Homo sapiens: one gene and its partners. The protein of the gene in region 1 interacts with the protein of each later gene in a biochemical or structural test. Each region holds a gene or a part of one and is shown in the gene's direction. Other genes may lie near its edges. The genes, in order: PRKCA, HMGA1, MGMT and ATP1A1.

Evidence for each region.
Region 2: of the proteins of PRKCA (region 1) and HMGA1, one has a biochemical effect on the other in vitro, tested with the Homo sapiens proteins (2 studies listed by BioGRID).
Region 3: of the proteins of PRKCA (region 1) and MGMT, one has a biochemical effect on the other in vitro, tested with the Homo sapiens proteins (2 studies listed by BioGRID).
Region 4: of the proteins of PRKCA (region 1) and ATP1A1, one has a biochemical effect on the other in vitro, tested with the Homo sapiens proteins (one study listed by BioGRID).

The regions. Positions count from the first base shown.
Region 1 is NC_000017.11:66,297,639-66,305,627, forward strand, and holds the start of PRKCA (protein kinase C alpha type), read left to right. Parts: upstream 1-4,974; 5' UTR 4,975-5,213; coding exon 5,214-5,386; intron 5,387-7,989. UniProt on the Homo sapiens protein: Calcium-activated, phospholipid- and diacylglycerol (DAG)-dependent serine/threonine-protein kinase that is involved in positive and negative regulation of cell proliferation, apoptosis, differentiation, migration and adhesion, tumorigenesis, cardiac hypertrophy, angiogenesis, platelet function and inflammation, by directly phosphorylating targets such as RAF1, BCL2, CSPG4, TNNT2/CTNT, or activating signaling cascade involving MAPK1/3 (ERK1/2) and RAP1GAP.
Region 2 is NC_000006.12:34,232,047-34,239,872, forward strand, and holds the start of HMGA1 (high mobility group protein HMG-I/HMG-Y), read left to right. Parts: upstream 1-4,826; 5' UTR 4,827-4,835; coding exon of another isoform or gene 4,836-4,917; exon of another isoform or gene 4,918-5,157; coding exon of another isoform or gene 5,158-5,271; intron 5,272-5,368; coding exon of another isoform or gene 5,369-6,334; intron 6,335-6,744; exon of another isoform or gene 6,745-6,911; intron 6,912-7,826. Other genes in the region: translation initiation factor IF-2-like, read left to right, coding at 4,200-4,210, 4,529-4,684, 4,836-4,917, 5,158-5,271, 5,369-6,334. UniProt on the Homo sapiens protein: HMG-I/Y bind preferentially to the minor groove of A+T rich regions in double-stranded DNA. It is suggested that these proteins could function in nucleosome phasing and in the 3'-end processing of mRNA transcripts.
Region 3 is NC_000010.11:129,463,232-129,470,258, forward strand, and holds the start of MGMT (methylated-DNA--protein-cysteine methyltransferase), read left to right. Parts: upstream 1-4,009; 5' UTR 4,010-4,065; intron 4,066-7,027. UniProt on the Homo sapiens protein: Involved in the cellular defense against the biological effects of O6-methylguanine (O6-MeG) and O4-methylthymine (O4-MeT) in DNA. Repairs the methylated nucleobase in DNA by stoichiometrically transferring the methyl group to a cysteine residue in the enzyme.
Region 4 is NC_000001.11:116,368,349-116,376,255, forward strand, and holds the start of ATP1A1 (sodium/potassium-transporting ATPase subunit alpha-1), read left to right. Parts: upstream 1-4,895; 5' UTR 4,896-5,163; coding exon 5,164-5,175; intron 5,176-5,518; exon of another isoform or gene 5,519-5,881; coding exon of another isoform or gene 5,882-5,893; intron 5,894-7,907. UniProt on the Homo sapiens protein: This is the catalytic component of the active enzyme, which catalyzes the hydrolysis of ATP coupled with the exchange of sodium and potassium ions across the plasma membrane.

The DNA.
Region 1 (7,989 bases):
GAACTCCTGAACTCAGGCAATTCGCCCACTTCGGCCTCCCAAAGTGCTAGGATTATAGGCATGAGCCACCGCGCCCGGCAGATTTGAAATTTTCAAAGAATTCAAGCATTATGGCTTTGGCTAAAAAGCAATTCATTTATTATTTATTTAGATATGAGGTCTCATTCTGTCACCTAGGCTGGAGTGCAGAGGTACAATCTTGGCTCCTGTAGCCTCAATCTCCTAGGCTCAAGGAATTCTCCTGCCTCAGCCCTCCTGAGTAGCTGAGACTACAGGCACATGCTACCATGCCTGGCTAATTTTTTATGTATTTTTTGTAGACACGGATCTCATTATATTGTCCAGCCTAGTCTCAAACTCCTGGGCTCAAATGATCCTCTCACCTTGGCCTCCCAAAATGCTGGGATTATAGGCATGAGCCACTGCATCCAGCCCAGATATTTTAAATGTATATTTATATATAATCTTTTTAAAAACCCATACATGCTAACATTCTATGCACATTTCTGCATTTTGCATTTTCACTCATACATCTGGAAGATATTTCTATATCAGTACATATAATTAAAAAAAAAAAAAATCTCATTTTTTAAACAGCTGCAAATAATTCTAGCAAATGAATGCATAATTGATCTAACTAATCTCCTGTGGATAGACATTTAATAATTGTTTGCTACTGGAGTCAGTGCTGCCTTTATACATATGCCTTCATGTACACGTGCGTTTATATATGCAAGATACATTTATAGAAGTGGAAGTGCTAGGATTACATTTATAAAATGTATCAACCTTTTAAAAGTACATGCATCAAAATGTTTGATACATTTTTAAATGACAATTATTGCCAAATTGCTCTGTATCATGTCTGTGTGCGACAATTTACAATCCCGCTAATGATGTATGAAACCATTTGATTCTGTACACCCTTAATGAAACAGTGTGTTCCTTACACTTTTTATGTGTGCCCAACTCTTAGGTCACAGTGGGGTTTCAATATGATCTTAATTTACATTTATCTTTTTATGAGACATGTTGAGAATTTTATCATAGGAACTATTTGTATTTCCTTTTCTGAGAACTATCTGTTCACGACATTTGCCATTATTTTTTCTTGGGCTTGTTATTCTTTTTGTTCTTGATTAATATCTGGTGGGATATTTATTCCTACTTTTTTTTTCATTTGGACTGTTGAATTAGCTTGTTTACTTCTAAAAAAATTCTACTTTCATTGGGCTAAGTTACATTTATGGTTTAATTAAGAAAAACTGACATTTCAATGTCTCTTCCTGTATGAGAACAGGGCATATCTTTCCATTTATTCAAGACATAAAGTGGGTTTAAACAGGTACATTTTTAAAAGATGGCTACTTGTGGAGTCCAAATTGAGAAGGGCAAGAACGAAAGCAGGAAGACCAATTAAGTGGTCCTGCAGTGGCCCAGGAAAGAGATGATAGTGCTTAGGCTAGGGTTGGGGGTGGATAGATTTGAGATCTGTCCTGGAGGAAGCACCAATTAAACTTTCTCATGGATTGGATATGGGAGTAAGACCAAGGGAAGAATAAGGATGATGCCTAGGTTTTCAACTTGAGCCATTGAGGGACTAGTGATGCTGTGAGATACAGGAGACAGAAAGAGATCCTAGAAGAAGGCTTGCTTAGAAGCAAAGTCCCCAAGCCTCAAACTCCAGGGAGGCTGCCCACAGAAGCTCTTTCAGTGGAGACACAACCAACTGGAATCAATCAACTGTAATCACAACCAACCAGGGCCTTCATTAACCCATGTGGTACCTTGGTGTGAATTTAAAAATGGTGGCTTTTCTGGGAAGACAGAGGCCCAAAGGTACACTTGGCAAGGAGTATGCGAGTTGAGTTTTAGCCCCTACTTAGTCTCTTGACTGGGAGCTCCTGTGCTATGAGCAACCTGCAGGACCAGACCTGGAAGCCTTGGAACTAACCTCTGACTGGGGCATCTGACTCATCCACTCCTATACAGTACTACCCTGCTCCTTAAACTTACCCCAAAATGGCCCCTGACTCTAGTGTTCTGCTACTCAGGTAGATCCTCACCTCTACCTGTTTAGAGATCTGCCAGTTACAGTGAATCTGACTGCTGCCTGCTTACGCATTTCGGCAGTTGCCTTGCCTCTCCTAAACCTTGAATATGGTGCATAGAATAAAATATAAGCCTTAAGTCATCTTGGTTACCATAAATCTCAGAATGATGCTTTTTCGATACTTATGCAATTCCTATTGCCCAATTTGAAAATGTCCTGGTTCATTTGAAAACAGTCCAGTTAGCTGCATAGAGCAGCAAGCTGTAAATTGTATCTGAAAGACCGCTGGCTTCAAACCATTGGGATTCTGAGTCATCTGTTTGGTGGTCTGACTTTGATCCCAGCCTCCAGCCTCTGGGTCCCCCTGGTCTAGGTGACACCTCTCCAAACAGTGTTGAGCTTACTCCTCAAAGGCAGAGGACAGAAGCGGATTCTGAAAAACTCTGCGTTCAGTCTGACATTCCCTGTTCTTTTCCCGCACCTTCCCCATGAAATAGCAGACTCGAAAATAAAATTTACTCATGCCCTCATGACTGACTGACTACCCCCAACCCAGGGGGTTCTCCCGTCCTTAATCTCCTCCATTTTAGTTATACCATGGGGACTTCAGGTAGGCTGCAGGAGTAGATGCTGGCCCACATTTCCATCAGTCCTTGCTAGGGACAGTGTTACACTGCTTGGTAATTGATAAATCCCCACTCTGGGTGCACAGTCCCCTCTCCCCAACTGAGCTAAGATGTGGGCTATTGATGCTTTCATGCCCAGCCCAACCATGAATCAGTTGACTTCCAGTCAATCATTCCTCCTCGTACCCACCAGGAACAACACTAACAACTGAGGCAAGAATGCAAAGCCACAACCTAAAAGAAAACAGACACATTGTTCCATCTGATCTACTGACAGCTAAGACAGTCACTCCATGGAGTACACAGGAGATTCGCAGGCTGCTGCCAGGGCTCATTCTGTTCTTGTCTTTCCTATGACTTTACTCAGGATTCCATTATCAGCAACTTCACCCTCCAGCTCTCTCCATCCTCCTATGAAAGCCTCAGGGACATAGAAATAAGCTTGTCTTTGTAAAATGTGCCAGGATCTCCGTCTTAGATAAAAGACGACTATGAGAAAAGAAATTATTTCATTCCACTATGTTCCATTTGATTTCTGCTTTCAAGCAATAAACCACCATGGCTTGAGATGCTTCTAGTGTTTCATGGAGAATTGGGACTATTTCCCCAACATGCCCTGCTCTTCATTCCTCTTTGCTTCTTCCCTTTTTGACTCCTTGGACCCGAGGGGCGACCATGAGTGGCGAAATTTCTGACCAGCTAGAATACCAGGCAGGTGCAGGCTCTTGAAGCACCAAGACTGGCTCAAGAGATTGTAAATGGATCAGTCAAGTGCATGCACCACTGACGGCCAGTCAGGAGAGCTTCCATTTGTTAAAAATATAAAGGACATTCCTATCATCAAGCATCACAATTAGGCAATCTCAAAGAAAACAATATTAGCTCTACTTGGCCTATGTTACATGCTCTAAGAAAGTATTTTAGAAAAGTTTTTTTTTTCAACATAAATTTATTGAAGGATCAAACGTGTTCTCTTTCTTGGTCTCTTTAGCTCGTAAAGTCGTTTTGGGGATTTCGTGAATCTGGCAAATAAAACAAAACACCAATGAAACGCTGAGAAATGATTATTTCCCTTATGTATTTTAGCGGCCTCCAGGCAGACCTGATAAATATTCAGCGAGTGATTAGCTGGTGCATCCCCACCTGCGTCCTTTGCATAGCCATGCCCGCTACTCTTTCACAGGCAGTTTTACTTGGTAAGTTACAAACGTACTGGCTGCACTCTGCACCTGACAGTATTGCAGTAATTAGCTTGGGATGCAAAATGATTTCTAAATTAAGGTCCTGGACTTGTAAAATCAAGAAAGCCTGATAATCAACATCGTCGCTCTGGTGGCCATTGAATAACGGGATAAATACCTAAGACAAGTCCTTTAACCATCCCACGTGGTGATAAATGCCCGACGTACAAATTAAAAGTCTCTACCACACGCAGGTGAAATAAGGTATAGGTCAAGAAGAGAAGGTAGGGGAAAGGGTCAATGCTTAATTATTTAAAAATCGCTCTCTTCCTCCTGTAGGAAGGTCTAGGGGCTAGGTCTTTTAGTGCACACGTGATGAAAGTGACATTTTGGCCAGGTGAAACCTCAAGCTGGTACAGGCAGCTAAAACACGGGCGTCGTGCCCTGGAGACACCGGGGGTCCTGAGGATGGGGAAGGGGCTCCCTGCTGCGGGTGCTGAGGGGTTAGGAGGTGAGCACCGGGCGGGAGGCTCCGGGGCAGGGGCTGCGCGTGGAGCCCACTCCCGGACGCGGGCTCCTCTCGGCCCGGCACGGGTGGCGCAGGACTCCGAGCCCGTCGACAAGAGAGAGAGCGGGAGTGGGAGAAGGAAGACCGGGAGAGGAGGAGGCCGGGCGGCAAGAGCGGAAGAAGAGGAGGAGAACTGAGGCGGAGGAGGGCGAGAGGGAGGAGAGCCGGGCGCAGGAAGGGGAGGAAAGAAAAAGGCGGCGGAGGAGCGCGGACCCGCCACTCCCGGCCTCCTCCCCCGCATCCCCACTCGGGCCGGCCCTCCCCCGGCCGCCGCCGCCGCCGCCGCCGCCGCCGCCGCCGCCGCCGCCGCCTCCCCTTGCCCAGTGTTCCCAGCACCGCAAGGCACTCGCTGCCTCCTCCGCACTCGGTCCGGTCCGCTCAGCGCCGCCGCCGCCGCACCCTCGCCGCACCCCCGCGCGCGCCCGGCCCGCGCGCCCCCGCCGCTCGTCCTCGCGGCCTCGCGCTCGGGGCATGCGCGGTGGGCGGTGCCGCTCCGGGCCGCCTCTGCCGCCGCGAGTAGGAAGCGCGAGCGCCGGGCACCGGGCTGTCAGTGAGCCTGGGGCCAGCGGGCGAGCCAGCGGCTCCGGCTCCCGCTCCCGCTCCGCGCAGCACCAGCCCGACTCTCCCCGGCCCCCGCCGCGCCCCCTCGCCGCGACCTCGGCCACCGGCCCGCGCCCCGCGCCCGGGGTCGCCCCGAGCCCGCACCTCTCCCCCGCCGCCCCCGCCCACCCGGCCCTCCGCGGCCGCAGCTCCCCGGCGGAGGCAAGAGGTGGTTGGGGGGGACCATGGCTGACGTTTTCCCGGGCAACGACTCCACGGCGTCTCAGGACGTGGCCAACCGCTTCGCCCGCAAAGGGGCGCTGAGGCAGAAGAACGTGCACGAGGTGAAGGACCACAAATTCATCGCGCGCTTCTTCAAGCAGCCCACCTTCTGCAGCCACTGCACCGACTTCATCTGGTAGGTGCCGGGCCGGGCACTCCTGCCCCGCTCCTCCCCGCCTCCGGGTCCCGGCACCCGGCGCTCCGGCGCGTCCGCCCCGGGGCTGGCTCACTCCGATAACTTGGAACCGGCGGGAGTCCGAACTCTTCGCCCGGAGTGACACGCGCGCCCGGCCCTGACACCGGCGGGCAGGACTCCCGGGACGTCGCCGTCCCGCCACACACACCCCCTGGCGCGAGAGGGAGGCTGGCCCCGTACGGTGGCGAAGGGGATCCCTCTCCGGGCCGGGCCCCTCACCTCCCCGGGCGCGCCCACCCGCACGCACCCAGCGGAGCGGCCGCTTGCCGGGGTGTGAGCCCAGGGGACAGGGGAGGAGGAGAGGCCCTAAGGGGGCAAAGGTTCCCGGAGAAACGCGCCCCGGAGTAACGGGGGAGCGGCGGCGATTGCACTGCGCGCGGTCCAAGTTGCTGGCGAGCCAGGCTGGGCGCGTTCGGGGTGGGGGGGTTGTGTTTGTGCTTCCCATCGGGCTGGACTGCGCTGGCATCTTGGGCCCCTGCCTACTGTAGGCTGCATCTACTGGGCACGGAGAGACTGACTTTTCTGAGTGAGCAGAGAGAGAGAGAGCAAACTGTTGAAAGCTTGCAGTGGGGGAGGGGGAGTTCTAGCAGGCAAATGGCACAAGGGCAGAGGGACTCATTTAAAATAGACCCTGTCGGCCAGGCGCGGTGGCTCACGCCTGTAATCCCAGCACTTTGGGAGGCCGAGGCAGGCGGATCACCTAAGGTCAGTAGTTCGAGACCAGCCTGGCAAACATGGTGAAACCCCGTCTACTAAAAATACAAAATTAGCCGGGCGTGGTGGCACACGCCTGTAATCCCAGCTACTCGGGAGGCTGAGACGGGAGACTCGCTTGAACCCGGGAGGCGGAGGCTGCAGTGAGCCGAGATCGGGCCACTGCACTCCAGCCTGGGTGAGACAGAGCGAGATTCCGTCTCAAAAAAAATGAAACAGACCCTGTCAACTCGAGATTAGACCTGTAACCCTGTTGATGAGGGCAGAGGCCTTATTTAAGAAAAATAATATAAGGGCCAGAGGTCAGAGATCAGGTAATCGCCAATGAATTCAGGCATTCTTAACTCGGAGGGTCCCTGGGGGCTTATGGAGAATCGATACATAGAAGGGCTTCAGGGGTCTCTGAACCCTGTAAAACTGAGGGAAATTGTGTTTGTGAATCTTTTTCCTGGTGAGAGAATTACAGCTTTCATCTGATCCTCAAAAGGTGTGTGACCCTTCTTCCCAGATCCCCGTCACCACACAAAAGTTTTGAAAGCTGGAACTAAAGGAGCTCTAGGTCCTCTAGTTAGAGCAGCAGTAGTTTGGTTTTTCTTTTAAGTTGCCCGACGTCCTGACTCTTCTACCTCTTCTTTGTGGTGTAGGAAGTTCCGGGCAAGACAGAGCTATGGCTAGGGCTTCTTAGCTCCCTCTCCTTCTAGGCCAGGGGGAGCTGCACAGGGTGGCAGTCACGGAGTGAATCCTGCCACCAGCCAGCTGTGTGGCACAGGTATCTTGGGCCACTAGGGTGAGCATAGTATGGATGGCTCTGTCGGAATCCATCACACCTGGGGAAAAACATCCCAAAGGGCAGGTCCCATGATCGTGGTGCGAATAAGGTGTTTAATTTTTCCTTTCCTTTTTAGACATCTGCTCCCAAGTACACTTTTATGAAAAGCACAGCCACCTCTATGAGTGATTTCCACTGTCTAGTCGGCATATGAAGCGACTGTGCTCAAAGGAGTAGGTAGTCGTAGATAAGGCTATTTAAAATAAAAATTTCGGAGCATCAGGGCAAAGAGAATATTGCATTTGGTTAAGAGGAGGTCAGCTGTGAGAGTCCATTAAAAGGGAACAGACTGCTGGTGACTTTTGCAGGAAGTAGGAGAGTTAGAAAGGGACTTGCAGCATACTGAGGCTAGCTATTGTCTTTCCACTATCAGTTGCCCTTGAAGGATCAGCCCCTGGTGAGCTGAAGAGGCGCTCAGGTCACCACCAGTATTGTGAAGTGGAAAATGCCCCCCTGAGGATCCCTGCAGCACTCTGCATTTAATTGTAAACCAACCAATTGGAAGTCCCAGGAAACCATCCACGGGGATTGTCTTTTTCAGTTTGCTTTCATTATTGCTTCTACGGGGTCCTTGATTTACACGTTTATTTCAATATTAAATCACTGATATTTTTAAGCGAAATGTTTAGAGTTAGATATGGTTTTTAGTAGGGGGGATGACTCTAAGTTAATTTTAAAAGTATGTGAAATACTTTGTACATGAAACATTCTATGTGAAGCAAGAGATTATGACTCTCAACCTTCCGAAGAAATTTTAATGCAGTTCATTCTGGTAGAACAATACCTGCAATTGAACGTCCACGTCAGGGTTCTCTGCTTACAGAGTAAATTCTCTAAAGTCATGTACAAGAACAAAATAGCCTCCCTATGTGCTTTGAATGCTATTGGTTCTCAGTAGAAATTAGATCGTGGTCATCTCAAATGCAAACAATAGGAATTATATTTTCTAAGATCTGGTTTCTTAAGCCAACATTAAATGTTAAAAGTGATGCCGTTTGGC
Region 2 (7,826 bases), on another chromosome or scaffold:
CACAGGCCCAAGTCCAGCCCCATGCCAAACACCCTACTGCTCCCACCTGCCTGCTTCCTAGGCCTCCTGGGATGCTCCACCCACACCCTGGGCCCCTGCCCTGTGCTTCCTCAGGCTGGCATTACAGCATGTACCACGCTGGTGGAATTGCCTGTGTACTTGTCTATCCCCTCGTGCACCCCACTCAATGCAAGCCCCTTGAGGACAGGAATGTAGCTACCCATTTCAAGGCCACACCCTTGGTGGTGGTACGTGGAGGGATCCATCTGGCCAGGCTGGGAGGAGGCAGCAAGCCCATCCAGCCTGGGAATAGAAGCAGTAGAGCGGAAAGAGGCAAAATCCTTAGCTATTTATATTTAACTGCCCCAAGACTTGTTTGGTTATTTTTTTGAGAGGGAGTCTCACTCTGTTGCCCAGGCTGGAGTGCAGTGGCGCCATCTTGGCTCACGGCAACCTCTACCTCCCAGGTTCAAGTGATTTTCCTGCCTCAGCCTCCCGGCTAGCTGGGATTACATGCACGCGTCACCAAGCTCGGCTTATTTTTGTATTTTTAGTAGAGACGGAGTTTCCCCATGTTGGTCAGGCTGGTCTCGAACTCCTGACCTAAGGTGATCCGCCCACCTCAGTCTCCCAAAGTGCTGGGATTACAGGCTTGAGCCACCACACCCGGCCAAGACCTGGTTTTAATACCTGTGAAATGGGGCAACAGTATCACTCACCAGTAGGGATGTGGAGGATCTGAGAGAACATGTGCATTCAGTATATGCTTATCAACTCCACTCTCTCCTTAGATTTCTTCAGGGGTTGGAGAGGAGCTGGGCTTCCTTGGGGATTTAGCCCTGAAGAAGTAAGCTGACAAGTCCATGGCATCTTGGGGCCATGCAAGGTGGGTCATTAGCTCACAGTAGGAAGGCGGAGAGGGCCCTGATTCCTGGGCCCTCCTTTTCACTTGAGAGTTTTTCCCTCGAAAGTTGGAAGCAGCAGAGGCCCTCCTCCCCTTCTAGGCCTGCCAGCCTTGCTGGCAGCAGAACTTGTGGTCAGCAGAGCCTGGAAGCCTGATCCTGCCAGATGACCAGATGCACTAGTAGCTGGGTGACTCTTGAGGAGAGTGGTCAAACATTGTGTACCAGGGTAGCCCCACCTCCTACCGGCCTGGGTCAGTCCTGGTTGATAGGGGCCAGGTCAGGTTTATGCCTGTTGTCTGGCCATAAGTATTAATAGTGCCGCTTTCACTCTGAAGTGCCCTGCTCGTCTGCTGAAGCTGAGCATACACATCCTGTGATCCAATAATTCCTCTCCTAGGCACGTACGCAACAGAAATTTGCACATCTACTCACCTATATTCTAGAACATTCATGGCAGCACTATTCATAATAGCCCCCCGCCAGAAACTATCCAAATGTCCTTCAACAGAATGGATATAAAATTGTGGTACATTCATATCACATCACTAAGCAGCCCTGAGAATGAACATTCTGCAGCCACACACAATAGCATGGATGAACCTCACAGACATAAGGGTAAGCAAAGGAAACTAACCCAGGAGAATACATAATGTAAGACTCCATATCCCTACGTGTGCACGAACAGGTGAAACGAAGCGCTGCTTAAGTTGAGATGGTGGTTACACAGGGGTACTGGAGATGTTGTATTTCTTGGTCTGCATGCTGGTGACACAAAGGTGTTCACTTTGTGAAAATGCATCAAGCTGAATACTTAATAGAACTAAATGGAACCATCCACATTAGTTTTTTCACCTACTCATCTAGAAAATGAGCTTAAGAGTCAGCGTCCCAAAATATAAAGTTGACTCAAACTCCCCATTCCCTGGACATTCCCATTGGGTTCACTGAAGCTCACTGGGTCGTCCTTGAGCAAACTGTATAGACTGACTCCAATAACAGAAAATGCTTCCTGTGGGGAAGACGGGTTCTGGTATCGACCAACTCAACCCCCCGGGCCTTGACCATGTCCTTGGCCTGGAATAGCTCCCTCTTCCTGCTTGCCCTGTCCCCAACTCCTCAGCCACCCACCTATCCAAGTCTCACGAAGGCCTGCTCAAGCCCGTCTCCTCCAGGACTTCCCTGACCACCCTGGGCTCCCATCCTCTCCTCCTGTATTTCCTCCTAAGTCTGTAAGCGCCTGACCCCTTGGTCCAAGTTTCAAGAGTGCAGGGGACTTTGTTCATTAATTGTACCCCAAGAATTTGGCCCAGTTCCTGCTACAGAGTAGGTTCTCAATAACTACTGAATGAAATGTTTTCTAACATGGCATCTCCTGTACTGCTATTCAGTTTTCTCTAGTGCAGGCCTGATTCTGATTTCCCTAGACGTGAAATTCGCTGGGACAAGGACTAGATCCTACCCATCTTTTTATCTCTACCACTCGCTCTTCTGCTTAATACTTATTTAAAGGGGAAAGAAAGGAAAGACAGTGAATTCAGGGCATTGACAATCCAGAAAGCGTGGAGGTGGGGGTCAGTGAGTAGAGAGTTATTTGGATTTCAAGGGTGTGGGTAATCCTGGAGAGGAACAAGCTACTATATTTATTTGCCTACGAATTTATTTATACCTGCCTCCTTCCAGAAAGGGTTTGAGGTGGCTGACAAAAATACACACAATACAAGGTAAAAAACAAGTCGCTGAGGAAATCAGGCCGAGAGGAAAATAAGAGTAGGAAAAATAAGATCGAGTCGGCTTGCTACAAGTGGGCCAAAAAGTTGGCCAAGTTTTCCACAGCCCACTCGAGGCGGAAGTCCCTCTCCCCTCCCCGTCTCAGGGGCGGCCACACGTCCCACACGGACGGGGAGAGATGTACCCGAGAGAGAGGGCGGACAGGACCCTCTCCGCACCTCCCCAGCCGCCAGGCCGCCAGCCCGGTGCCCGGGCCTAGCAGCCTCCGCGGCCTTGGAGAGCGCGAAGTGGAGGGGCGCGCGGCTCTGGGGGGCAGCCCGAGCCCAGACCTGGGTCCCAAGGTGCTGGCGGGGAGCCTGTGACCTGGGACGGGGTGCTGGAGGCTGAGGAATCGCGCCTCCATGCCACGCCGCAGAGGTTCCCGCGCTCGAAACCGAACGCCCTCCAGCCACCACCACTCACGGCCTACTAAGCGCGCGCTCCGGGCCCAGGGCACAAAGATGGAGGGAGCGGCGCGATCCACCCGCCCCACCCCCACCCACCAGACAAAGGGGCAGGCCGCCCCTCCCCCAGCCTTCTTCGCGGGCCCCGCCGCCCTCTGCTCCCCTCCCCTCGGGCCGCCCTTTGGTGACTTCCTTTCCCCTCCAAGGGCGGCCCCGGGACTTCTCAGGAACTGCGTTTCACCTGGACGTGGGGCGGGGAGCCGGCGCGCAGAGGGCGGCCTCCGGGCCCACCCCTAGGCCGAGCCGGCCCCAGGCCCGCGCCCTCCCCTTTGAACCCGCGCTCCCGGCCCCTGGCGCCTTCCCGCCCAGGCGCCCCCGCCCCCACCCGGTCAAGCACGTGCTGCCCGGGCCCCGAGCGCTTCCCGCCGCACGGGTGGGGGCTGGGCCCACCCCCCGCCCGCTCCCCACCCCCACCGGAAACATTCCTGCCACATTCCTGCAACTGCAAGGCCCAGCCCGCCGCTCCCCACCCCGCCTCCGCGCCGGGCCCAGGGCTTTCCTGCGTCCCCTCCACCGCCGGCTCGCCCCCTGAGGAGGGGGCTGGGCCAGGGCCTCGGCTGACCGGGGAGGAAGAAGGGGAGCAGAGAAAAACATGAGTCACAGCCGTGTGTCACTGGAGCGCATTTCAATTCCCTGCATCACAGGAGGTGTGGAAGGCCGCCTCGGGGACCGGGCGCGGGAGGTGCGCCCGAGAAGGCCCCGGGCCGGCCTGCAGGGCGCGCCGCTCCGCCTGCGCCCTTTCCTCCCCCACCGCCCTCCCCGCCATCTTCCCCTTTGGCTTCCTTCTCGCTCGGTGCAACAAGTCTTTGTTAAGCCGGGCGCCGGGCGGGCCAGGCGTGGCGGAGATGGCCTGCGTGCTCGGCCCCTGCCCTCAAAGCGCTTCCAGGCGACCTCTGGCCCACCTTTTATTTTTATTTACAGTCCCAACGGAAGGGCCCAGGTCCCCAAGTGGGCCTGCGTATCTCCAGAACACCATCTAAGTCACCTCAAGGTATGAAGCCTCCCTTGGGTGTACCTGCCAACGAGCCAATCGTTGGTTTCGCTGGAAGGCTCCACCTTGATCATGGCTCGCTGGTGGCCATTAATAAAACACTTTGGATTTCACAAGTTTCACGTTTGAATTTCACAAGACTTGTATCTCACCAATCAGCCACACGCGGGTTGACACTGAAAGGCACATGCTGACACCTGTCCGCCCAGGGGAAATCTACCATCTCTCTATTTTAGTTAGGGGGCGGCGTGTAGGCCGCGGAATTCTCTAACGAGCGCGTTTCTCTTCACCCCCTGGGCCCGCGTGGACCCCCGTCCACCCCCACACGCCCTGGGGGGGGGGCCGGGCCCACACGCCCTGGAAGCCCCTAGAGGTGACTCTCCCTGGGACCCCTGTACCAGGGAGGAAGGATACCGCCACCCGTCACCACCCCCCGCCAGAAGCTCCTTCGTGACTCCTCTGCGCGTGCCTTCCCACACCTCCTCCGTCCGGGACTGCGAGGAGTGGGCGGTCGACTCGAGTTCGCAGCCCAGGCCTCCCACACGCCCCTCCCTGCCGTCAGCACCCACCCGCGCGGCAGCGGCGGCGGCGGCTGGCGGGCGGCCGCCCTTTTAAATCCCCGGGCTCATTTGCATGGCCCCGCCCCCTGAGTGACACGGCTGGCGCGGGCGGGCCCGTCCCCCCTGCCCCTGGGTCGCTCTTTTTAAGCTCCCCTGAGCCGGTGCTGCGCTCCTCTAATTGGGACTCCGAGCCGGGGCTATTTCTGGCGCTGGCGCGGCTCCAAGAAGGCGTGAGTTCGCGGCCGCTCCGGTGGCTTCTTTTTTTTATATCTATAATTTAATTAAATTATTTATTTATTGAGGCCGCGCACGGGCCGTGCCCAGCTTCCTGCCCCTCGCCATCCTTCGGGGGAGGGGGAATATTTTTGTCCCCCCGCCTGGCTGTGACACATAAATACCCCGCGGGGGCCTGGGCGGCGAGCACGCGGCGGCGGCGGTCTCTGAGCGCCTCTGCTCTCTCCCGGTTTCAGATCCGCATTTGCTACCAGCGGCGGCCGCGGCGGAGCCAGGCCGGTCCTCAGCGCCCAGCACCGCCGCTCCCGGCAACCCGGAGCGCGCACCGCAGGCCGGCGGCCGAGCTCGCGGTGAGTCGTCCCCGGGGCCCGCGGCGGCGGCGGCGGAGGGGGGCGCCCGCGCCCCCGCCCGCACGTCGCCCCTCCTGCGAGCCGCCCGGGGCTGCAGCGCGCGCCGCCGGCTTTATTCCCAGGCCGGGGCGGCGCGAGCCGGCGGCGGGGGAGGGCCGCGCGGCGCGGGGGCGGGCGGCGGGGCCCGGCGGCGCGGGGAGGACGCCCGCACCCCTTCCCCCGCGCCGCGGGCGCCCTGCGGGGGGCGGGGACCCGGGAAAGGCGCGCGGTGGGGGAGGGGGCGCGCAGCTGCGGCGAGCGCGAGTTGTGCACCCGGCGGAGCCCGGAGGAGCCCGGCGCACCTCGCGCGGCGGCCGCTCCCGCTGGAGCCGGAGCCCGAGCCCGAGCCCGGGCCCGGGTGAGGGGCGGGGAGAGACACGGGCTGCGGCGCGGCAGGAGAGTGGGGGGTCGGGCGCCCCCCGCAGCTCAGGGAAGTTCTGGAAGTGAGGGAGATGGGGAGGAACCCCCAAATTCGGCCCTACGCCCTCTCGGCCTTTCTCTCGCGCCCCCTCCGCAGATGAGGCCGGAGCGCGGGCCTGGGTTTGGGGCTTCACCCCGACCCCACCTCTGGCCTGGCCCGCGCCTCTTCAGCCCCAGGGGCCGGGCCTGCCCTCCGCCCCCACAAACTGGTTTCGCTGCTTTGCTGGGCTCTGTTGGAACTAGTCCCTTTGACTCCCCGTTTCTATTTTATTTTCTTCTGGGGCTTTATTTTGCGGGGAGGGGACGGAGGGAGGGGGCTTTCTTCCTCTCCCCCGCGCCCGCGCGCGCCAGGTTTCCTGCCCCAAGGCGGGCTTGGGTGCCCCCTCTGGCAGGAAGTGGGGCCGGGTGCACCCGCGTGGCGGTGCATGCGGTCGGGGTGCGCTGCTTTCCCGCGCCTGCAGGAGCGGCCTGCGCCCCTCCCCCCGCGCGCCCTGGCCCCGGGTCCCGCCGGCCGGCCTGCAACGGCCGGGCGCAGACACTTGCAGAGTCACCCTCGGGCCGGGTCTGGAGCCTGATGCCTCGGGGGTTTAGCCCTAGCCGCTAGGCGGGTAGGCAAAGTGTCGGGTTGAAAGGGTCTCCGGGAACCTACTTCTTCCTGCTCGCCAACTTGCTGTGTGACCTTAGGCAACTCAAGGCTTCTCTGGGCTACTTTTTTACGGGGGACGGGGAAGAAAACAAGGGAACCCCCAAGATAATTTCCTAGGGCCTTTCCTGCAGAGTCCTTAAGTATTTGAGGAGCACAGTTTGCATGCACAGTGTATGGAGGAGACAGGCTTGAGGCCCAAGCGGGCTTATTACAAAGTGAGGGATTGGGGTTAGGCCCTAAATGTAGTTCCTCCAAGACAGGCCTCTGATGTTCAGAAACAGGTGGAAAAGACGAACGTTTCTTGGCCTCACTGGAAAGGGCCTCGGGCCTTCATTTAGTTCGTGGGGGGTTGGCTGAGGGGATTAAAGGGTCCCCAGCAGCAAGAGGTGGGGGGAGGCACCAGATGGTATGAGAGCTTCCAGGGAGACCCGCCAAGATCTCCAGGCAGGCCGGGCCAGGCTCTCTGGGATTCCGGACTGGCTTCGCCCAACTGGAACCCCCTCGATGAGGGGGCCCCAGGCAGACCTTATATGAGGTCAGCACTCGTTTAGTTGATTAATTTTGATGTTTAGTTTGAAGGGGGACCTGTGGTGTAATATAAGATTCTAATCACTGCCTGTAATTGCAGAGCAGGCCAAGCCACTAATGACGGAGCAGGATAAATCACCAACCACCTTGTTTAAAAGGGTCTCCAAGTCTGAAACATTATAAGATAGAATAATTACCAAAGTCCTGCTGTCTGGAGGGTCTCTTGATGCTTGAAAATGGAGGTCCTGGGCCCTCTAGAAATCACAAGTTTGCAAAAATGTTTTTTTCCTCTCATTGGGGTAAAAACTCTTTTTCTTCTTTTTTTTTTTTCTTTTAAATTAGACATGGGAGTCCCACCGTATTGTCCAGGCTGGTCTCGAACTCCTGACCTCAAGCAGTCCTCCTGCTTTGGCATCCCAAAGTGCTGGGATTACAGGCATGAGTCACCTCACCTGGCCCATAAATCATTTTCAAATGGTCTAGTTCTTATTTTGGTTAGAGTGAAGATTTCTTTCTATTATTTTAAGTTTTTCTAAACTATTACCTAGTTTGATCCTTGAAGCAGTCAGGAGGTAGTTCAGGCAGGTACCTTATAATTACCTTGATCTTACAGATTGAGAGGGGTTCAGAAGTGGAGCCGCTTGTCCCACCCCTTACCATGGCAGGCAGGGATTGGTTACTGGAAAAATGTGTAGCCTAGGCCTCCGGCGTCTCATCCATCTGTAGCCTGGGGATAAGGACTAGGATGAAGATGTGGAGGACTGTCCTTTTTAAGCCTGTAATACAGGGTATTCCCAAATACAGGTTGCAGGCCCTCCTTCCAATGAGAAGTTTTAGGAAAACTCAAAATTGATGGGGTTAATTAAACCCCAACAGGCCTCTAAGAAGAAGGAAGATGCTAGAAAATGACCAAGAAGGTTTT
Region 3 (7,027 bases), on another chromosome or scaffold:
ACAAACTGGCAAAGGAAGTTTCAGGAAAAGTCTTTCTAATAGGAGTCTGTGGGCTGCCTCTGGTTCGTTTCTTTAGGAATTCTCCTCCATGCCCTTCTTGACACAAAAGGGCCTGAAGGGTTCCAGTTCTCAACAGGAGCTCCCAGGGGCTCCTGGCAGGAGGATGTTCTGCCTCTTTGGAGGAAAGCAAGAGCTAAGGAGCCCCTCCTGTTTTAGTTGCACCTCCATCCCCTTTCTCCACCCTGCACCATTCCCTTACCCTCTATGTGAGGCAAAGCCTGAAGTCCCTCCTTCCCGCCCTCTCTCCTGCCCACTAGTAGATTACACTCCCTGCTGCAGTTACACCATGATGCCTCTGCCATGCTGACAACTAGTGTCACACAGGAGCGTAATCAGAAGCACCTGGCATTCAACCCCGGTACCGATGGCCCCCACCTTTTCATTTCAGGCTTCTTCCTCCAGAGTGCTTGAGGCTCCCTGGCCTCCTGGCCTCTCCCAGGTCCAAGGCGCTGACTCCAGCTCTTGGCTCCAACATTTACAGGAACACTGGGACTAAGAAAATCAATTGTGTTAATCAGCAAAACCCTCCACTTGAGATGCTATCCTAAAAGCAAACTATATGTAAAACACTTAACGTGGGGAGCTCTGTAATATGTTTCTTTTGTTACACGACCATCACACATTTGTCCGGAGTTTGGGGCTTTCAAACCACATAAGGTTTTATGTGATCGTTATAAAATCCCTTCATTTCCCAAAGGTAGGGTAGTAAGGATTAAGTTTGACTACTGAAGGCAGCTTTGTTGTAAGTGGTCTCTAATGTCACAAAAGTAGCTTGGGAAGACAGGCTTATTAAACAAATTTCTTGGGTTGCAAATCATTAGAAGCAATCGCATGTCATGTTCATTTGCTTAACCCGAAAGGTATCCATTTGGATGTTTAAAGAAACTATGCAGATTAACATTGTTCCCAGTGCCCACAAGAAAGCTGGCTGATCTTAAAGGAAATCCAGGGAGCTCCTTGAGGAAGTCGGACTGCAGTTGAGCATACCCTTTTGTGGTTTTCCCACCTCTTTTGTAAAAAGTTCTTCATAGGAATCTGTGTCTGGAGGAAAAGGGGTTGTGATTTGTTAATCTGAAGATGGGAGACCTCAAAGGAATCTCACCCAACCAGTCCTGCACTGTCATCCTATGAACAGAGAAGTCAGGTGGTTGCTCAGTGAGGGGCAGGGCTGGCACCACATCCGAGCCTCCCTGTCCTGTGTTCCTTACTCTTCAGTGGACCCGGCGACCTCCCGGCTTTGGAGCCATCCTGTGTTCCTTTAACAGTAGGACGAACACACAGGCGATGATGAGATTGTAATGGGACAAGGGGGAGAGGCGTGGGGAGCTCTTGATGAAAACTTGGGTTTTTGAAATTACCATGATGAAGGGAGGAGCTTGCACCAGCAGGTGTAAGGAGTGTGAGTTTGAGTTCTGCTCATCAGACAGCCTAAGCAGTCACATCCTTGAATCCTGGTCTTTTGCAGGCCAGTCCTTGGTCAGGTGGTGGCCTTTTTCCTCTTTCCCCTCTGCACTGAGACCCTTATTTGGCTCCTGATCCTGGAGCCCCTGACACAGTCCTTACCACTGAAGTAGCTGTGGCCCTTCACATAGTTCTTCCCACCACGCCAGCAAGGGGACTGAGTTCTTTCAGTACAGCCAGGGCCAGGTCCACACATCTCCCTGGGAAGCCAGCACTTTCTCTCGTGGACCGCCTCCCCATTCCCACAGGGCCCTCCTAAAGGGCCTTTGGATGACCACATTGGCCTTTCTTTCCTAGGGTGGGGAATTAGAGATGCTAAGACTGGCCAGTCTCTTTTTCTTAAGAGTTTAGGGATTCGTCTTAAAATATTATTCAGATAAACGTATGAGTCATGTGTTAACTGCAAAACTACTTAACAGCACACTTGTTAGAATATCAGTCGGCACTCTGATTCCATTTCGGCATTGTTTTTCCTTTGGTTCTATTAAGATCCCGGTTCTAACTGGGTCCTGGTAGTAACAGGCTGTAAGTGGCCAGGTGTATAGCATTATTTCTTAGTAGTGTGGTGTGGTGCTGGTGGTTTATTTTCCCTATGCACACATGCCCTAATATGGAAGGATAGTTTGTACACACGTAGGGTACGTTATCATGAGACTCCTTTACAGAGTATGAAACTGAGGATTAGAGAAGTCAGACGAGTTTCCCGAAGTCTTATAGAAGGCTAATGGAAAAAACCAGAGCCAAGGGCAAACATGTTTCATCTGTCCTTCCACATTAGTTTAAATGTGAATGGCTGCTTGGAACACAGTGTTGAGAAGGATTCCGAGGCTGTGTCCAGGTTCAGTGGGGAAAAAGTGCCTTGATTTGACCATTATATCGTGTACTCAGGGCCTAGTTTATTTCCCACAAGCAGCTATTTAAAACATGTCTCATCCAAGGCAGGGTCGGGGTGGGGAACCTCAGAGGATCAATGATGCAGCCTGTATTGTCACCAGGGCTCATCCCAAAGCAAATCCTGCTGAAGTTCTCCTCTGAACAACCCTTATCACTCATGCTAATATGTTGGATCCTGCAAGTCACAAATACGAAGGTATGAGCATTGGCCGAATCCCAACAGGGAAACTTCACCGGGAAGGTGAAGACCCCTTTCCATTAAGATAACAAACAGAACCTAGAAGGCCCGTAGCATGGTGGCTTAGAACATGTGGGCCTTGGATGGGATCCTGCCAAGGGGTGTGTGACCTCTCCGAAGCCTCCAGGGATGATACTACTCCCTGGGGTGCTTATGCCAACCACGTTAGAGACAATGGTTTCTGTACCCATTGCCTGGGGCTGCCATAATAAAGTGCCACACACTGAGTGGCTTAAAACAACAGAAACCTATTGTCTCACACTTCCGGGGGCCAGAAGTTTGAAACCCAGGTGTGTTAGGATCCTGCTCCCTCTGAAGGCTCCAGGGAAGAGTGTCCTCTGCTCCCTCCGAAGGCTCCAGGGAAGGGTCTGTCCTCTTAGGCTTCTGGTGGCTTGCAGGTGCAGCCCTCCAATCCTCCTCCCCAAGCGGCCTTCTGCCTATAAGGACACGAGTCATACTGGATGAGGGGCCCACTAATTGATGGCTTCTGTAAAGTCCCCATCTCCAAATAAGGTCACATTGTGAGGTACTGGGAGTTAGGACTCCAACATAGCTTCTCTGGTGGACACAATTCAACTCCTAATAACGTCCACACAACCCCAAGCAGGGCCTGGCACCCTGTGTGCTCTCTGGAGAGCGGCTGAGTCAGGCTCTGGCAGTGTCTAGGCCATCGGTGACTGCAGCCCCTGGACGGCATCGCCCACCACAGGCCCTGGAGGCTGCCCCCACGGCCCCCTGACAGGGTCTCTGCTGGTCTGGGGGTCCCTGACTAGGGGAGCGGCACCAGGAGGGGAGAGACTCGCGCTCCGGGCTCAGCGTAGCCGCCCCGAGCAGGACCGGGATTCTCACTAAGCGGGCGCCGTCCTACGACCCCCGCGCGCTTTCAGGACCACTCGGGCACGTGGCAGGTCGCTTGCACGCCCGCGGACTATCCCTGTGACAGGAAAAGGTACGGGCCATTTGGCAAACTAAGGCACAGAGCCTCAGGCGGAAGCTGGGAAGGCGCCGCCCGGCTTGTACCGGCCGAAGGGCCATCCGGGTCAGGCGCACAGGGCAGCGGCGCTGCCGGAGGACCAGGGCCGGCGTGCCGGCGTCCAGCGAGGATGCGCAGACTGCCTCAGGCCCGGCGCCGCCGCACAGGGCATGCGCCGACCCGGTCGGGCGGGAACACCCCGCCCCTCCCGGGCTCCGCCCCAGCTCCGCCCCCGCGCGCCCCGGCCCCGCCCCCGCGCGCTCTCTTGCTTTTCTCAGGTCCTCGGCTCCGCCCCGCTCTAGACCCCGCCCCACGCCGCCATCCCCGTGCCCCTCGGCCCCGCCCCCGCGCCCCGGATATGCTGGGACAGCCCGCGCCCCTAGAACGCTTTGCGTCCCGACGCCCGCAGGTCCTCGCGGTGCGCACCGTTTGCGACTTGGTGAGTGTCTGGGTCGCCTCGCTCCCGGAAGAGTGCGGAGCTCTCCCTCGGGACGGTGGCAGCCTCGAGTGGTCCTGCAGGCGCCCTCACTTCGCCGTCGGGTGTGGGGCCGCCCTGACCCCCACCCATCCCGGGCGAGCTCCAGGTGCGCCCCAAGTGCCTCCCAGGTGTTGCCCAGCCTTTCCCCGGGCCTGGGGTTCCTGGACTAGGCTGCGCTGCAGTGACTGTGGACTGGCGTGTGGCGGGGGTCGTGGCAGCCCCTGCCTTACCTCTAGGTGCCAGCCCCAGGCCCGGGCCCCGGGTTCTTCCTACCCTTCCATGCTGCCAGCTTTCCCTCCGCCAGCTGCTCCAGGAAGCTTCCAGAAGCCCCTGCGCGGGCCTTGGCTTGCAGCAACCCTTTAGCATACTTAGGCAGAGTCCCATATTTCCTTCCTGCTGGAGGCCAAGTTCTAGGGGCCTTCTGGTTACTATGGCTGGTGTTTGTGTACATCATACCCTAACTGTATTCATCAACACTTAGAGTAAGCAAGGCTCGCTGGAGAGCCACACACACTGGGCACCGTAATGTCGGTTATAACACCGCAGAGGAGTTCTGAACTATGTATTTCGCACTCCTGGGTTCATCATCTCCTGAAATCTCAGGGTGGTGTTTGCTCTCAGTTGCTTCAGCTGAGTAGCTGGCTTTCTGTCCTGGAAAGCAGACTTTGTACATGTGTGTGCAACCTATGCCTGCTGAGATCATCATCAGACAGGGAAGCGGCTTGGTCCAGAGAGCTGTTCTCAGTAGAATGTTAAGCACAGAGAGCTGAGAATTAGACTGGTTATTTACATAGACATCCAAATAGAAACCTATAGAGTATCTGTTAAGTCAGGCTCTCCCGTCATCTCCCCCATCCCTGGGCAGGTGTCTAGGAGATGGTTTTGTTATTTTCAGGGCCCTCTCAATGGCTAAAACACTCTGGGAGATGAACAAGATTTTAAAAACCCAAAGCTTAGCGCACCTGGTGGGTGGGGGTGTGAAAACTTTGAAGGAAACCGCGTCAAGAGCCTGGCTGATTGTTAATATCACGTTAACTCAGAGGGCCAGGATACTTGCCCAGACCCGGAGTCTGCCTGCAAGTAGCAGAGGAGAGCTGGCCTTGCTCTGCCGCGTGTCTTTCTTCCTGGGCCCTCTGTCTCGGGTTGGAATTTGAATAGTGGAGTAGTGTCTGCCACAGTCAGGGGCCTGGATGAAGTAGACCACCAGTACGGAGCTATACTCAGGTACTTTTCAATGTATATATCTTCATTAAAAAAAAAAAATCTGGGCCAGGCACAGTGGGTCACGCCTGTAATCTCAGCACTTTGGGAGGCCGAGGTGGGTGGATCACCTGAAGTCAGGAGTTTGAGACCAGCCTGGCCAACATGGTGAAACCCAGTTTCTACTAAAAACACAAAAATTATCCAGGCGTGGTGGTGCATGCTGGTAATCCCAGTTACTTGGGAGACTGAGGCAGGAGAATTGCTTGAACCTGGGAGGCGGAGGTTGCAGTGAGCCGAGATTGCGCCATTGCACTCCAACCTGGGCGACGAGAGTGAAACTGTCCTGAAGGGGAAACAAAAAAATCTGTATCAAAATAAGGATTTAACTAATAGTATTAGGCACTACTTTAAAAAGGCTTTGCTGTTAGTAAGGTTGAAAGAAATAGAGCCCTAGGTATACATTGGGTAGCACCTTGTTCAGCTGCTCAGATTCTTGAACCTTGTTGAGGTCTTACTTTGATATCACCTGGGCCTTACTTTTCGTTGTTTGGGTTTCCTCCCCAGGTGTCTCAATCAGGGCCTCCTCTGTCCTTTTGCAGGGAAGAAGGGGGTAGGAAGGGCCTGAAAAAGAACTTGCCTTCCCCATTGCCCCCTCAGAGTTTGTTCCTCTCCAGTCCTCTTCCCACCCTTTCTTAGGACACCAAAACCCTGACTCTTTCAGTATTTTATAATAAAATAAAGTTACTAAATTGTCTGTTCTGTTTTGCAGAGGACACACATTTAGGAGCCAGTGATTCAGACCTTCCATTTTTCTTTTTGGTGCTAATGCTCTTTTCAGTATATTCTCTTTGATAGAAAAAAAATGGAGGCAAAACTGAATTTTCTGCATTATCTTTTCCTTTAGCATTATTCTTGTTTCTGCACTTCATTCTGACCCCCTTCCCCAGCATAAAGTTCCATGTCCAGATCCACTTGCCCTGAGATTTTTGACTTCCGTTTGGGACTCTAGTCCCTCCAGGGGACACATTGAGCCTCCCAGACCCTGCAGGGCCCTGTGCTCATTCGGCTCTTGGGCTGTTGCTACGGTCCTTCCTGACCCTCTGTTTCCTGGGACAAGTAGTTTTTAATGCAGCTACTTTCTGAAAGAGCTGGGGTCTTACCGCAGAATATTATTTTATTATTTTTAGAGACAAGGTCTTGGTCTTTCGCCCAGGCTGGAGTGCAGTGGTGAGATCATAGCTCCCTGCAGCCTCAAGCTCCTGGGCTCAAGCGAACCTCCTGCTTTGACCTCCCAAGTACCAGGGACTACAGGTGTGCGCCACCATACCTGGCTAATTGTTGTTGTTGTTGTTTTTAGAGGCCAGGGTCTCCGTATGTTGCCTAGGGTGGTCTCGAACTCCTGGACTCAAGTGATCTTCCCTCCTAGGCCTCCCAAAGTGCTGGAATTATAGGCATGAGCCACCATGCCTGGCCTCGCAGGATATTATTTAAACGAAACCTGAAGGATTTAAAATCAGAGAAGACACATAAACCATCACCTGACTGTGGGGTGAGAGTGGTCTTTATATAGACACTCATGATGCACAAGCCAGCCCTTCGCCCCACTCTTGTTTTGAAGTGAAAGGATTTATATGGGAGGGAGGAGGTTTGAGCTGTGCAGGAGGGTCCTTGGTTGGCATGAGGATTTTGTGAACCTACGCTGTTAGCTCTGCAGGCCTGT
Region 4 (7,907 bases), on another chromosome or scaffold:
GAACTCTCTCAATTGTTTTTCCATGGAAGAGTTTAAGGCCAAGAATAGCAAATCTATCCACCACGATGATGGCACTTATTTCCTTAGTGCTTGTGGTTGTGCCCCCTGGAGAGCAGGAAGGGTTAGATGCCAGTTACCTCCCGCCACCTCTTCCCAGCTTTGGGCTTGCCCTTTCTGAGCTGTAAGGCTGCCTGAAGCTGTGTCTCTGCTGGTTGGATGAAGATGGGACTCTGGCAGTGGAATATTTTTCAGTCCAGATCCCTTCTTTGTTACCATTTGATTTTCTTTTTTTTTTTTTTTTTTTTTTGTTGCAATGCCTCGGTAGTTGTTGATTTGCAGAAAACAATTGGTGAGTTTTTAAATGTAGGATATTGTAACATCACATAGTGTTGTGAACTAGGGTAAGGGGAGTAGAACTGTATTGGCAGAGAGTGCTAAAGGAGAAGGCAGAATCCTGGCTCAGGATCTGGTATAAAACACACAGGAAACAACTAAAGAATCCTTTATTACTGCTTTATTTACGAAGACCGCTATTAATAACAGCAAATTATTTAAAGGGCAGCTGGGTTAAAAGGATGCTGAGTAAAACACCAAGGACTTGATTCTGTTGTGGTTGGTGATAACCTACAATAGTTACCAAGTAAATGCAGACTCTTTCAAATTTCCCAGTTTCCCAGAGGCACAACCTGAAGTCTTCAACCACCACTAACAGGAGAAAATATGTTTAAAAGAATACTAAGGAGCTTTCAAAAGGATTAAGAAATGGCTCGGGGGCCGGGCGCGGTGGCTCACACCTGCAATCCCAGCACTTTGGGAGGCAGAGGCGGGCAGGTCACGAGGTCAGCAGATCGAGACCATCCTGGCTAACACGGTGAAACCCAGTCTCTACTAAAAATACAAAAAATTAGCCAGGTGTGGTGGCAGGCGCCTGTAGTCCCAGCTACTAAGGAAGCTGAGGCAGGAGAATCGCTTGAACCAGGAGGCGGAGTTTGCAGTGAGCCGAGATCGCGCCACTGCACTCCATTCTGGGGCGATAGAGCGAGACTCCGTCTCAAAACAAAGAAAAAAAAAAAGAAAGAAAGAAATGGCTCGGCTGCGCTCCATTCTGGGGCGATAGAGCGAGACTCCGTCTCAAAACAAAGAAAAAAAAAAAGAAAGAAAGAAATGGCTCGGCGTGGTGGCTCACACCTGTAATCCCAGCACTTTGGGAGGCTGAGGCAGGCAGATCACTTGATGTCAGGAATTCGAGAACAGCCTGGCCAACATAGTGAAACCCTGTCTCTACTAAAAATACAAAAATTAGCCTGGCACGGTGGTGCGTGCCTGTAATCCAAGCTACTCAGGAGGCTGAGGTACAAGAATTCCTTGAACCCGAGAGGCAGAGGTTGTAGCGAGCCGAGATTACACCACCGCACTTCAGCCTGGACAAAAGAGTAAGACTCCATCTCAAAAAAAACAAACCAAAAAAAAGGTAAGAATGGAGAGTCTGGGAGGAAAAGTTATAGGAGTCAGAATTATTTGCTGACAGATTTTGATAGTCAGCAATGCACCCAGAACTGTGCTTTTAAAGACAGGTGATATGTCTGCTGCTGAACAGAAGAAAAGGAAATAGATTTGCAATGGAGGCACAGAGATTTGCAATGGAGGCACAGATAATGGCTAGGGGGAACTTTGAATGATGAAGACAGTTGACTTTAAAGCAGCAAGAGTGGCTTTCTGGGTAACGTGGAAAATTCTGGATAATGTGGGAAATAGGTAAAGGATAAAGATGCATGCTTATGACTGTTTCCATGCTAACTCGGGAGCACACAAAGCCAAAGAAAATTCTGTCCTTCCAGATCTCTAGCTCATAGATCCCCAAAATTTTTGTGTCCTATGGAAAATGCTAAGTTGGTGTGGGCTCCAACTCATATTTTAAAGCCTTTAATTGCAATGATGTGTTTATTCAATTCAGCAAATACTCAAAGTGCTAGCGTTCTTGGCTCAAAAAACTGACTTGCATCATATTTTTCATACATCTGCTGACTCTATTCACAATGACTGGAGCAACCATCCACAGTTGTGATCAAATTCTCCTCGAAGCTATCCATACTTGGCAGCCTTAAGGTCTATAAATGCTGAGTCTCCAGGCCAATCAGTTTAACTGTGCCCCAAGTTAGAAGCTTGAAAAGAGTTGATAGGATAAGCAGCAGACAGAATAGAGAGCCTTTGCTTTCTTCACCCTCTCTTCTAGAATCCAAATTTGTCCCCTGCACTGGAGTTAGAAAAGCTACCTGAAAGTCTTGCCACTATTCTTGGAATATTCAATACCAATTACTCCCTGGGCCTCAGTTTCTTCATCATAAAATGAGGGAGCTTGATGTTTCATCTATAAGGTTTCATTTCATTCAGAAGCCACTCTTCCAAGGGAAGAAAAGAAGGCTTTTTCTTAAAAAAAAAAAAAAAAAAGGACTTTTCCTCCTTTGCTTACCCATTTTCCAAGGTGTCTCTCTCATATCTGAGATTTCCTTCTGCGCCTCAGACTTGGTCATGCCTTACCTTTTTCTTTACCTCAAAGACTTGTGAGAATTCAAGGGCACTGTGCATCTGAAATTACTGTGTGGCATCAAAAGCAAAATACAGATTTAAGATAATGTTTCTTATATTTTTTGCCCTTTCTTCACACCGGAACACAGCTAGAACTCTGGGATCCTCCTGAAAGGACCTTCAGCAATTTTCAGTTGCCAAATAAATAGCTCTAGATACAAAGGGAAGTGCCTTGATCTATCAGGGTTATTTTGTTGAGTGAATGAATGAGAATTTTACTTATGAGGGGAGAAAAAGGAGATCAGCTGGCAGGAGAAATCTACGTTGTTCCGACCCGTGCTTTATATATTTAGTTGTTGCCGCGGCACTTTTCCCATTCAGACCAGGGCCCAAGGAGTAATTAATCTTTGTTTTTATTTTTATTTATTTATTTTTTTGAGATGGATCCTCACTCTGTCACCAGGCTGGAGTGCAGTGGCGCCATCTCAGCTCACTGCAACCTCCGATTCTGTGGTTCAAGCGAATCTCCCGCCTCAGTCTCCCGAGTAGCTGGGATTACAGGCATGTGCCACTACGCCCAGCTAGTTTTTTTTTGTATTTTTAGTGGAGACGGGGTTTCACCAGGTTGGCCAGGATGGTCTTGATCTCCTGACCTCATGATCCGCCCGCTTCGGCCTCCCAAAGTGCTGGGATTACAGGCGTGAGCCACAGTGCCTGGCCCAGGAGTAATTAATCTTAAACAAGCTATCTTTAGCAAGCAAAAGCATCTTACAAAGTACAGTAACTGAGGCTATCAAGCATGTAAAGAAAGCATTTTCTAGAAGCTTAGAGATGGATCCCCGAACACTCTGTAACCCTCTGTTAACAGTCTAAGGAATTCTGTTCTGAATTTGGGGGCTCTTCTCCAGGCAGTCAGGGTTTTGAATTCTATTTACAATTCCTCTGCTCTCTATGGCCTAGAATGATTGAACCAAGTCTCTAGATCACTGTAGGAGACATCAACCTTTAACAATACATTCTTGAGGAGAAGAGACTCGTGTAAGAAACTATCTTGTAAGAAGGGATGAGAATTACCCTAATGATGTAACTGACAACACAGTTTCTAGTTTTTCCTTTCTTTCCTTCCTTCTCCATTTTTTCCAGTTTCATATCCTTGTTTGTTCATGCTACATGAATACTTGAAGTTGATAGAGTTGGCTTTAACTTAGGAACCTTTGCTTAGAAAGTCAATATCCTGGCCTTTCCCAGAGTACTTGACTTCCTGCAAACCTTGTTAATAATACTTTGTTTTTTAAAATGTTGGAGAACTTCAGCCATTGCAGCCTCTTGCTAAGAAGCAAAAGCTATAATGACAGAGAAGCCCCAAAGTGCAGTGGAACCAGGGATCTCCGGGGAGAGTGGTGGTTTCCTGGGCCCCCCCAGAGAACCCAAGGCTGTGCTGGAGATGCTGCCGTGACAGGTGGAGGCGTGGAGAGGCACCTGGCAAGTCCTCAAACGCCTCCCCCTTGATTTAGCTCCTCTAGCTAAGGATACGCATTCCTTTGGGTTTCAGGTTTTTCTTCCCTAAAAAGAGAATCCCCAAACTGGACAAGCAGGTTACATTCACACAATAGCGTGAATGAATTCGCTGGTCGCCCTTCAGATTCTCATTTTGGAATCTCGAAGAAAGAGAGGTGGTGGGAGGAGGGCGCTTGAAACTTCTGGCGATGCCAGTTCAGATCGATTCCAGCTATGACGGAGCGGGAAGTGGATAAAGAGGACCCCAAGTCACAGGAGGCACTCTGAGAGCACCAAGCGCCCGGGGAGGCCATCCGCAGGTGGGCGCGGGGCCTGGATTCCACAGAGGGGCGGAGTCCCTCAGTCAGGCGCTGGCTGCAATCACACCCGAGCGCCAGCCCCCTCCAGCATCCCTGAGTCCCAGAGGAGATCGCCGAAGCGCTGGAAAAGCCGTTCCGCCCACGACTTCTGGTGCCGGGTCGGCGGCGACTGGGGGAGCCCAGTTCCGAGACCGTACCGCACCCACTGCGGACCTCCTGGGCCCTACATAGTAGGCGGGTCATGCAGGGCAGCGGGAGGAGGGGCGTGGGAGGGCCAAGGCCGCCGAGTCCCCGCTGTTCAGCCAGCAGGAGCGCCCCGCAGCCCTCCCGGGACACGGTGGACACGCTTGTCCCAGACCTGGGCGCCCTCCTGCCGGGAGCCAGGACTGGCCGCAGCAGGCGCTGTCCGGGCCCGTGGGCGGGGTTTCGGGAGGGGGCGGAGCCAGGCCCACGGCCGGTGTCAGGTTGCTCCGGTAACGGTGACGTTTCGCGGCGTGGGCGGGGCCAGCACGCAGGTTGCATATTTTAGGAAGTGAGGAGGAGGCGCGGGCTGGAGCTGCGGCGGGGTCTGGGGCGCAGAGCAGCGGCGGGAGGAGGCGGACACGTGGCAACAGCGGTAGCAGCCCGGGCGGCGGCAGCAACAGCGGCGGCGGCATCGGCCCGAGCCGCCGGCCGCCCTCCCACCCTCCCGCCCCGCGGCAGCCCTAGCTCCCTCCACTTGGCTCCCCTGGTCCCGCTCGCTCGGCCGGGAGCTGCTCTGTGCTTTTCTCTCTGATTCTCCAGCGACAGGACCCGGCGCCGGGCACTGAGCACCGCCACCATGGGGAAGGGGGTGAGTGTCCGGCGCGCCCGGGGAGGGGGCTCGGGGAGCCCTCGAGGGGAAGAGGAGGAAGTCGGGAGGGCGACCGCGGCCAGCGGGAGGCGGCGGAGGAGGAAGCGGCGCCGCGTGGAGTGGGCTGGCAGAGCCGCGCGGCTTAAAAGACGACGCAGTTTGGAAATGGAGGGAGCGCAGTAACGGGGGGCGGGGGAAGGGAGCGCCGAGGGGCTGGAGCGCGGCATTGCTTAGGGGGGTGGGCGGACCCTGGGCGGGGGCTGCGCGCCCCGGAGGCCGAGCGGGCCGGGGGCTCCGAGAGGCGGTGCTTGGGAAGCCTCGGGGCCGGGAGGAGGGGGCTTGCAGCAGCGGGGGCGGCCCCGGGACTGAGCCGGCATCCCTGAGCCTGGCTCCCCTCCCTGCGACCGCCGTCACCTCCTTCTCCTTCCTTTTCCCTCCGCCCTCCGTGCCCTGAGGAAAGGCGCGCTCCTCCCCTTCCCCTGGGGCGCTCCGCCGGGGCCTCCTCCCGGGCCTCCGTTCCCGCCGCGGCCCCGGTTCCGGCGGGGGCAGCCTCCGGGTTCGGGGCTCCTTCTCCTGGGGACGCTGGGGCTTAGCTTGCTCCGCGCAGAGGCGGCCGCCCTCCCCCAAAGAAAAAACTGGCTGCTTCTAAGTGCGAAGCCGGCTGGGCGGGCTGGTGCCAGAAAGGGTGTGTCTTCACTGCCCTAAGATGGCCTTTAAGGTATACTTTTGAGGGCTTTCTTGGGCCACTTTCCGTAAACACAGGATGCACCGATGGCAACTGGAGTTGTCATCCGATGGTGGGGAGAGGCGTGCAGATTTTTTTTGAAGGGACGAGCCCTGAAGGAGGATAGGCAGACCCACCAGGGCCTCAGGGTACAAGAAACCCGAAAAAGGACTGGAGGCTGCAGGCAATACGGTGGTAGGAATCTCTGCCGGTTTCCAGCGTCGCGGAAGCACCAAAGGGCGGTCCCTGAAGGAAACGAGGGGTCTTGGGGCTGGAGAGCGGCGCGGAGCGTGGTGGGAATATCGTCACAACGCCGCTGTCCTACATTTCTGTAGCGAAGACTTGATTACCCCTAGCTATTACCCGTGCAGGAGACTGGGCCCTGGACCCCAAATGAGCCAAAGTCTAGTTGAGAAAAATTTACACAGAATAACCTCGGAGTTCATGGGGTGAAAGTGACCATGTCATGAGAATACAAATGGGAGAGAATCCACTTCGTTGTCTCCAGGGTTTAGCACAGTGCAGACACTGAGTAGGTCTTTGAAGGCCCTGAGGCTTCTGGGTGTAGACAGAGTGTCGGGAGCAGAGGGAGGCTGCACTCCTTGGGGACTCTAAGGGAGTTTTAAAGGAGGTAATTGAAAGGCTTGGACCTGGTGGGGAGAACAGGCACAAGTGGAAATGCACAACTCGCCTCGCTTTTAAAAGCATGCAGCGTGGAGGGCTGGTCCAGGTCAGGTGGCATCAAAGAGCGGAGTACAGGGCCTCTCCATTCCCCTGATGGAGTCTGGGTTAGTGGCCTGTGCTTTTACCACACCGTCAAACCCTTGATCATTTCTGTAAACATGCACTTTAAAGCTCATTCTTTGTCTCTCCTGCCTTAAAAGAAAAAGAAAAAAGTTTACTTCCTGAGCTAATTTTGGGGGGTTTAGACATCACAGATGTGTGCCCCAAGCCTAGGAAGGTGAAGTGACTTGCTCAAGGTCAAACGGTTGGCTAGTGACAGACTAGGCGTCCCTGATTCTTGAACAGCCTGTGGCCTCAAGCCTGAACATGCATTTACTCTTTAACATTGAGTTCTTTATACAGAACTCAGAACTTCGGATGAAACGGGGTATTTGTGATGTTGAATTAATAGGCCATGGAGATGGTTTGGGTAACTAAGTTATGTCCATTTATCTAGATGTCTCCTTTATAACCACACACAGGCACACATGCACAGTAGTGATGCGGTGGTAACCCACCTGAATAGTTAGTAGAGCTTAAACCCAGATGTCTTACAACAAAATGTATAGTGGCTAGCAAACACAAGATTAAATTACAGCTGCGAACACTGGGATGATGAGCTGCTTGGCTGCTGGGTGGTAGTTAGCATTTTGAGTATTCTGATACATTAAACATTAGTTTACTTGTGTGTGTGTTTGTGTGTGTGTTTGTCCTGTGACTTATTGTGAGCGTCCAAATGTTCAGAAGAATATTTCATGTTGGGATTTTTCCACATGGGGATTAAAATGTGGGTGGAGAGTGACTAAAGCCCTGCTGATAATTGGCTAACAAGGAAGCCTGTGCCGGCAGCTAATTTTTAAGGTCATTGTAAATTTCTTCCCCTCCTCTCCTCAGTACCCTTTGTGGCCTAGCTTTTGATGATATTTCAGGTGATTTTATATGTCCTTAAAAGTCTAGTTCCTAAGCATTTGGTAAGAAAATGAAAGAACAGCTCTTGCTGAATCATTCCTGGATGAAATAGGATTTTGTCCCTTTTTTTCTTTCTGGGTTTTATTGCCAGTGACTTGGCTTAAACCGTCAGCTAGGCCTACCACCGGCAACTGTTTCACTCACCAAAGGTACACGCCATAACTGTTTAGAAATGTGGGAAAGTTTGTCTTCTCAAGTGTGTAAAAGATGAGGAGGGGGGGTCTCACCAGGTCTTTCACTGCATTCCGGATTTAGTTTGAATATTATTTACCGAAAAAATAAATCATAGCTTATGAGTAGTGATTTAAGGAAGGGC